Homo sapiens: one gene and its partners. The protein of the gene in region 2 purifies or fractionates together with the protein of the main gene of each other region. This does not show direct contact. Each region holds a gene or a part of one and is shown on either strand. Other genes may lie near its edges.

Region 1 (2,723 bases), about 100 Mb from region 2:
ACAGTTTTATGTTTAATAGCAAGAAAAGGAAAAAAAATTAGGTCTTTCATAACTGAAAATTAAAGGTTTACTTCTTGACTAACTTTTTCTCTCATTGCTGGTATATATTCCTCTAGGAATAAATGGTTTATGTAGTTTTTCTTCTCTGGATAACTTCATAAGATAGTTAATATGTTACTGTAAGAAAACTTCCTATCAATTTTCAGAGTATGTGGACAAATATCTGGATTCCTTCTCTTATAAATCGAATATCTCAGAACTCTATTTTTGTTACTTTTCACATTGATTAAAAATGTATGCATGCAGACAATATTGAAGGCTACCTTGATTTCAAGAGCTAAAAATGTTTTATCAACTATTTCAGAGTAAAGTTCTAAATTATAACTGGATATATTTTAGGTATAATAACTACCATTTTTTAAGTAGGATGTTATTTTGTAAAATTTTATCTTTTACCTATATGTGAATGTAATGCTTTTGTGAATCTTCTTAAGAGTATAAAGGTAGAAAAGGTGTCAATAAGAAGTTCAATTCAAAATTAATTTGAATACGTACATTTGTGCCTAATATGAAAGTGAAAAAATATATTCTTGTGTGAACAAGAGCAATATGTATTTATATAGTGGCATTGGTACCATTGTGAGCTTCTGATTAGCCAGGAAAGTTAATCAGAGAAGTTGAAGTGTTATACCCTTATGAAATATATCAGAGAATGAGATCAGTCCTACCCAAAATGTCACTGTGCAGCCTAATGAGGCAATTGATAAAATCCTTATTAAAGGAGCAGGAGACTCTTACATGATAGTTTAACCGGAATCATGGGCAAATTGTGAAACTAAAATCATGAGAACTTTTTAACACATCATAAAAATTGTACACTTCCAAGTAATTAACTTTGCATATATTTTGTACTCCTGTAACTGTTGCTCAAAATTTAGGAGGACATTTTTTTTTAATGGGTTTAGAATCTATACAGCTGTCTTCTTTCTCTCACACAGTCACTCAGTAAATAAATATTGACTGAATCTCTTCATCTTGGATATGTTCTCCTGAATATTCTGGGTATGGGCATTTTTGCTATTAAGAGTGAATTAAATTTTTGAAATGATCCCTAGTTATTTGGAGAAAAGTCTAAAAGAATTAGATGTTTAACTAAGGTCGATAATACTTTGTTGGGTAAAAACTATGTTAAAGCACTAAATCTGGTTTTCAGATATAGCTTAGAATTGAATCTAAAAGCAATTCCCAAAAAGGAATTTCATATATTTTCTTTTGGAATCATTAGAACAAGAATATGGTATCAAAAATTTTCTGCTTTGCAAATGATAATACCCACTAGATACAGATAAGTTTTGTTCTGTGTGGTTTTTCAGATCAGCTTCATAAGAACCTAATTTGGTGGTGTGATTTAAATTTCCCAATTCATAACTTGGGATGTTTATACAGGTACTGATTAAACTTGGCTCTAATGTAATTATTTACTTTATTTTTTTAGACATCCACAGTTATTTCAGGAAATTCTTCTAGTGCCAGCGTTTCCTCGTCAGTAACTAGTGGCTTAACTGGATGGGCAGCTTTTGCAGCCAAAACTTCCTCTGCTGGTCCTTCAACAGCAAAATTGAGTTCAACAACACAAAACAATACTGGGAAACCTGCTACTTCGTCAGCTAACCAGAAACCTGTGGGTTTGACTGGTCTGGCAACATCATCCAAAGGTGGAATAGGTTCCAAAATAGGTTCCAATAACAGCACTACGCCCACTGTACCTTTAAAACCACCTCCACCTCTAACCTTGGGTAAAACTGGCCTTAGTCGCTCAGTTAGTTGTGACAATGTCAGCAAAGTAGGTCTTCCTAGTCCAAGTAGTTTAGTTCCAGGAAGCAGCAGCCAACTAAGTGGGAATGGAAATAGTGGAACATCAGGACCTAGTGGAAGTACTACCAGCAAAACTACTTCAGAATCCAGCAGCTCTCCCTCAGCATCCCTTAAAGGCCCAACTTCACAAGAATCACAGCTCAATGCTATGAAGCGATTACAGATGGTCAAGAAGAAAGCTGCCCAAAAGAAACTCAAGAAGTAATGTGGCCAAGTAGGTTTTTGTATCATATTAGCCTAAAGATGAAAGGCTTATTATTATGATATAATCTGTAATACACTGTAATTTAATAAAAGTCTTCATAATCAAATTTCTATTGTTTCTTACCTTAAAATGCTAAATATTATATAACAAAACTTGGAAACTTTCATTTTAAATCAATCTTCAACATTTTTATTCTAATGATTTCCATAGTGTGTGAAAACAATGATTAGAATGACTGGTTCTCAATGAGATCTTCAGAAGATTGAAAGCATCTGTGAATTTAAGGAAAAAGAAATAGTTCATCTTCTAGCAAAGCCCCAAGAGTTGATCCTGATGAATGAGGTGCCTTATGTGGCGGCAGGGACGACCCAACATAGTTTTCTATTTTCCTCCCCGTATTCTGGGTGTTCATTTTCTGTGCTAGCCCCATTTCAACTGACTCTCCCTCTCCCTCCCAATTATTTCATCTTTTTCAAAATTATTTTTTCATTATTGATTTCTCATATCAATGGATTTTCCTAATTGATTTATCATACTTCATATTATATCTTTACCTTTTTTATCACCTCATTTCAATTATTTAAGGGTATATCTTTTTCCAATAAATTGTGAACTCTCCTGGTGCTTAATACAATATTTTTTC
Region 2 (3,660 bases):
CCGGGAGGCTCCGTGCAGCCCCGGGCCCACTGGGTAGCCCAGGAAGGACTCTGCTGGCCCCTTGGGCCCCACCCCCTTTGGAGGCCAGCAGTGGCCACAGGGTCTGCTTTGGGCACTCGGTGTCCCCTGACCCTTCAGCCACACTGAACCAAGTCAGGAATATCTCTTCGTTTGTTTCTTCCTCATATTTTTGTATCTAGACCGTGCCTGCTGACCCTCAGCGAGGACGGTGCTACCACTGGGCCAGGGGGAGGCCCGGGTCGATGGAGAGGGCTCATGAGGTCCCTCAGCTCCTCCTCGGCTGCCTCCCCCCTGCCATGGGGTCCTGGGAGGTGCAGCCACAGCCACCCAGCTCCCGAAACTTGCTCACCTGAGTGAGTTTCTGACTCGTTGTAAAGTGCGAGCTGGTGTCAGGCCCGGCTCGGAACAGCTGCTCATTTAGAGAGAATGCAGCGTTCACGGCTCAGGCCGTCGGATGAATCCACTTGACAGAGATGTTTTTACAAGGGCCAAGGGCTCTCGCTCTGAGGATCCCTGACATATGTGACCTCTTCCTTCCAGCCACGGAGACCGCCCAGCAGTTGAAGCGGAGCGCCGGGGTGCCCTTCCACGCCAAGGGCCGGGGGCTGCTGCGGAAGATGGACACCACCAGTAAGGCCCCCACCCTGGTGCCGTGAGCCTTGCTTTTGGGGCAGAGCTAAGGGCTTCACCTGGAGACCCGCTCCCTGTTGGGGAGGTGGTGCCTGTGAATGGTCTTCAGGCAGCAGTGTTGGGAGCCCGTGGGAAAGCGAAGGCACTGGGGCAATTTCACCGGCTTCTCCCCTTGGGGAGCTCCCTGGGAGGATGTGTGGGCACGGAGACAGGAGGGCCGGGATCTGAGGACAGTGCTGGGCACGGAGACAGGAAGGCCGGGATCTGAGGACACCGCTGGGCATGGAGACAGGAAGGCCGGGATCTGAGGACAGTGCTGGCCCCTGCTCCTCTGCTGTTGGCACCGGTGGCTCTCGGCCTTCCCAGCTCGGGCTTTCGGCCCCAAGTGCTGCTCTTGGGTTCCGAGTGTCCCTGGGCGGCTCCGCGGGGAGGACGTGACCGTGCTCAGCTGCCCGTGGGGCTGTGCCCCCCGCACCCCTCCATCTGCCCTTCCTGATTTGTGCTCTCAGGGCTGGGCGTGAGCTTAAGCAGGATGCACCCTGATCACAGGAAGACGGCGTGCCCCTGGGAACCATGGCAGGGCATACTCACCCCAGAGGGTGCTGGATAGTGACCTGGGGGCCAGAGGGCAGGACGGGTGTCGTCCTGTGCTGAGACAGCTGGGTAAACTTGCAGATGGGTGGGGCTGAAAGGGCAGCCTTACAGGCGCTCTCCATGCAGCTCCCAGACCAGCCTGGCTTAGTTTATTTGGGCTCCCATAATCCCACAGTGTTCACATGGGACCTAGTAGAAGGCATCTTGGGTCTGCTGACTATTGTCGCTGTGTGGGGGGCCGTCCCTGGGTCATGTTCCTGCCCACCGCAGCCGAGGTTCCACCTTGCTCTCCTCTACCCCGCCTGGAGCAGACCCTTGTCTTTCCACCCCCACCAGGCATCCCAGGGCCAGGGCTGCACCTGCTGGCCCAGGGAGGGTGGGCCAGCCGTTGAGCAGTGTGTCCAGCCTGGCCCGGTGTGCTGATGGCACCATCCCCCGGGCGTCCTCTCTCCGGGCCTGGCACCATGAGAGCCACGCACGCCTTGGAGGGTGCGTGTGGGCGCTGGTGGGTAACAGCGTAGGTAGGCCTCAGGAGTGTCCTCAGGGGACGGGGAGAAGGCTTGGGAGGGCGGCCCTCAAGCCCAGGCGCCTGGCTTCATGCCCCTGCCGGTGGAGGCACAGGAAGGAGGCAGAGCTCAGCCCCCGCCACACTGGTGAGAGACTCCACCTGGTGAGATCCTGTGGCTGGGCTGGGGTGCCGCTGTCTTTGTTTGGTGTCTTGGCAAAGTGTGAGGTCGTGGCTCCAGGCGTTCCCCTGCTCCTTGAGGTCCGGGATCCTGGGGGTCCTGCCCGCTGCCCGCCAGGGGTTTGGCCCTTCCCCTCTGCGGCGCTAGCCTAGAAGAGGGTGGGACGTTCTGAGCTCGGGGTGGGGGACGTTTGCCGGTCACTGCTGCTGGCGCCCTGACTGTTGCCGTCCTCCAGCCCCACTCAAAGGCATCCCGAAGCAGGCGCCCTTCAGAAGCCCCACGGCGCCCAGCGTCTTCAGCCCCACAGGGAACCGGACCCCCATCCCGCCTTCCAGGACGCTGCTGCGGAAGGAACGAGGTGTGAAGGTAGGCCCGTCCCCCAGCTCCTGTGGCACCCCGGGGCCCGTTGCGCCCTGGTGCCGTCACTAAGGCAGGGCTGTGCTTGTCTTGGCAGCTGCTGGACATCTCTGAGCTGGATATGGTTGGCGCTGGCCGAGAGGCGAAGCGGAGAAGGAAGACTCTCGGTGGGGGTTGGGGCCTGCGTGTCGGCGGCAATGGGGGTCCCTGCGGGCCCTGCCCAGTTGGGGTGGGTTGTGCCCACGCTCGGCGGGCAGGGCTGTGCCCCGTGAGGCTGCTCTCCGTGGGTGGGTGCCTGCTTTTCTCCTCGCTCCTTGGTGGCCTCCCCTGGGAAGCTGTTTGATTCCCTGCCGCTGCCCTGAGCTGACACTGCAGACGCGCCCGGGCACTGGCGAGGACTCCTGTTTTGTCCACAGATGCGGAGGTGGTGGAGAAGCCGGCCAAGGAGGAAACGGTGGTGGAGAACGCCACCCCGGACTACGCAGCCGGCCTGGTGTCCACGCAGGTAGGGCTCGGGGCTGCACCCCATGTCTGGCACCACTGCGGGTGCCCCTTTTGTTCCGATTGTGGCCACTAGTGTGCTCTGTCGGAGAATATATATATGTATGTACATATGTGTGCAGTCTGTATTTATGTATATATACGTATATGTACATGAGAGGCAGTGTGGGCCGTGCCCTGACATGGGCATCTGACTCAGGCTTGGAGCGGGAACCTGCCCCACGCTTGCTGGAGGGGCTGCCAGGGGAGTCCTCCTCAACCCTGTGCCTCAGTGTCCCGTCAGGCAGGGCTGGTGGGACCTAAGCCTTGCACGTGGCCGTGAATGGGTGCAGGACAGGCCTGTGGGGGTGCTGGGTGGTCAGAGGCCTCAGTGTCCCGGAGACCAGGCCCTGCCTGCGGGTGGGAGGCAGCCACGGGGCGCGGCAGGTGCACAGAGGCTGCAGTGGGTCGTCTGAGGCCAGGGCCTGGAGGAGGCCACACTGTGGGGTCACTTCAGGATAATAAGCTCCTTTCTTCCCGCCGCTGCGTGTTCTGTGTTTCTTAACATGAGCATCTTCCTTTATATCAACGCTTCGTGGTAAGAAAAAGCATCGCTCCTTCTGTGCTCAAGATGGGCTGTTTGGGCTCCTCAACCCCTCCCCTCTCCTACACAGGAGCGGCTCAGTCCCCAACTCTGCTGGGGCGCCAGGGGCCAGGGGTCCCGTTGTCTAGCCCAGGGAGCTCGGGAGAGTGGCCCCCGCCTTCCTGCTCTAGCTCGGGGGGCCACAGCCTGTGGCAGTGGAGCTCCGGGTCGGGCCATGTGTTAGCACATGCCGGAAGCATGGCCTCTTCTGGAAGGAACCTTAAACTCTGTGTTCCAGAAACTTGGGTC
Region 3 (2,453 bases), on a different chromosome or scaffold from region 2:
ACTTTTCAAACCTACTAGTGGCCATTAGTCTTTTTTCTTGTTTTGTTGCACAAAGACTGCTGCTGTTTTCGTTTCAGATAGTGTATGTTCACTGTGTATGTCGTATGATATTAACAGTTGTGCTGAGGTTTTCTATTTTTGTCTTTGTTGATTTTTCCACTCAGCAGCCTCATGATTATTAGTGTTTTTGTTTTGTACTTGGTGGCCTCAATTTTTTTCTTTTGGTTTTTTAAATTCTAGCAAAGAATTTTTCATCTTTTCTAAGAATTTAGCTGATAGAAGAGCATTTCATCATCTTGTTTGTGATTGTAAACAATTTATACATGCAGTTAGTGACCAGCCACCTCCCATTAGGAAAGCCAATAGACACAAACCTGAAGGACAGATTTGGTATACTTGTTACTTAAATTGTAGGTTGAACTTTGGGGTTTTTTTGTTCATTGTTTTTGTTGCTGCTGTTAAAGTGAATATTCTACAGAGTAGAAAACTAAGGTTTAAGAAAGTTGTAAAATTACTTTTATTTTAAATAAATTATAAAATTTTAACATGAGATAAAATTCAAAGACAGTTACCACATTCCCTCAAGATTGGCAGCAAGAGTTTTTGTATGAAACATTTGAGTTTTCTGTGATCATCAGAATCTTTTAGCTTTTCCTTTCAGCCTTGACTCTTATTTTAATGTATACTACATTACATTTGTATAACTTTCTCTCATTTAGCTCTCAAAACAATGGAGATAAGTTGTTATAAATGAAGGGCAGATACTATAATCTCCAGTTTCCTGAGGGGCAGGGGAAGGGCCCAAAGGAAGCAAATTAGTTAGCAAAGGAAGGGCCAGAGTCAGAGTCTTGCACTGGAGTCTTGACTCCTAATCCAGGGTTTATACCACCACCCCATAGCAGAAGACAAGGATGATTCATTTGAACAATCTGTGGCCTTGATATAATTTATGGAAATTAGCTCACTATTTGTATTCTAAATAACTAAAAATTTTAGGAAAGCAAAGGAGTTTTGAGAAATGAATGCTAAATACTATACATTATTCCGGTCATGTGTTTGCATTGGAATAGTGTAGTGGTGTCTAAGCCAAATTTACTTGAGAACAAATGTCTATCTTATTGGATGTAATGATGTAAAGCATATTAATCATACTTTAAGTTTACTCAGTGTTTTATCATGGATTAGCCATCTACTAATTTTGTCATAAACTTTGAATTGTGGCAAATAAGGTTAGAGCAATACATATATGTCAATATGGAAAGCAATCTGTTTATTCTTTCTGCATATACAACAGTAATATAGTAATACCTGTTATGATCATTGTAAAATCCCTAAAGGTTTGATAGTGATGTGTACTTTGCCTGAGGTTAATGAGTCTCAAAACTTATGTTTAAATATTTATTAGGAACAGAACATTCATATAGCATTTGGAAAGTATTTGAAGGATAGCAGTAAGTCCCTCACATTTCTTCCACAAATAGACTTATAAGAAAATTAAGGAAGATAAAATACAAGTTAAATAATGGGAAAAACAAAATTTTATAGTATTATATTGACTCATATCCAATTTTCTTATGTTTTTTTTTCAGAGACAAAAGTAAAACTATTCAGTGGTATTGTAAATTGATGTCTCAGGCATAGCTCATTTATTTGTTTATTTATTGTATTGTTTCTAAAAGAATGTTTATTATAAAGAATACCTAGTGATGTTCTTTCTGTTTTATCTTAGAGCTGAACTAGAGAAACATGGTTATAAGATGGAGACTTCATAGCATCCAGAAGAAGTGTTGAAGTAACCTAAACTTGACCTGCTTAATACATTCTAGGGCAGAGAACCCAGGATGGGACACTAAAAAAATGTGTTTATTTCATTATCTGCTTGGATTTATTTGTGTTTTTGTAACACAAAAAATAAATGTTTTGATATAATCTTGGTTTGGTTCAGAAGTCTTAATCTTTTGCTTCTAATCAATTTTCTTGTCATGATTTTCCAAAACCTTATTATATATAGATAGTAAAATTTCATATTATGAAATTTTCTTTTTTTTTTTTAATGTTAACTGAGTGAGGCTCAGGTTAAATGATCTGGAGTAGATTTCACCTGATTCCCAATTCAGTACTTTTCTTAAACCACATCAATTAATTGTTACTTCTATTTTATAAGGAATTTCTTTTACATCACATTGAACCTTAATCTCTTCTGTATTTTGATAGCTTAGGCAACATTTGCTGACATTTATAAGGTGACCTTTCAAAACCTGTGTTTTAAAAATATTAATCATTTTAAATTGCTGTAATTTACTTAGTTCCTGAGCCATTAATAATATTATTAATGGTTGTTAGCGTATTATTGGTACTTAAAGTCCAAAGTAGTTTAATCACAGTAAGAATGGTGTCTTCTATTAAAATTGAGGAAGTGGGCTCAAGATACTTTATCAACAAGTGCATATTTT

Evidence for each region.
Region 1: the proteins of NELFA (region 2) and INTS12 purify together in Homo sapiens (affinity purification with mass spectrometry; one large-scale study listed by BioGRID and IntAct). This does not show direct contact.
Region 3: the proteins of NELFA (region 2) and SEM1 purify together in Homo sapiens (co-immunoprecipitation; one large-scale study listed by IntAct). This does not show direct contact.

Annotation. Positions count from the first base shown.
Region 1 is NC_000004.12:105,682,090-105,684,812, reverse strand, and holds the end of INTS12 (integrator complex subunit 12), read left to right. Parts: intron 1-1,495; coding exon 1,496-2,080; 3' UTR 2,081-2,186; downstream 2,187-2,723. UniProt on the Homo sapiens protein: Component of the integrator complex, a multiprotein complex that terminates RNA polymerase II (Pol II) transcription in the promoter-proximal region of genes.
Region 2 is NC_000004.12:1,984,909-1,988,568, reverse strand, and holds part of NELFA (negative elongation factor A), read left to right. Parts: intron 1-561; coding exon 562-651; intron 652-2,091; exon of another isoform or gene 2,092-2,166; coding exon 2,167-2,297; intron 2,298-2,385; coding exon 2,386-2,455; intron 2,456-2,704; coding exon 2,705-2,793; intron 2,794-3,649; coding exon 3,650-3,660. UniProt on the Homo sapiens protein: Essential component of the NELF complex, a complex that negatively regulates the elongation of transcription by RNA polymerase II.
Region 3 is NC_000007.14:96,688,243-96,690,695, reverse strand, and holds the end of SEM1 (26S proteasome complex subunit SEM1), read left to right. Parts: intron 1-1,729; coding exon 1,730-1,772; 3' UTR 1,773-1,934; downstream 1,935-2,453. UniProt on the Homo sapiens protein: Component of the 26S proteasome, a multiprotein complex involved in the ATP-dependent degradation of ubiquitinated proteins.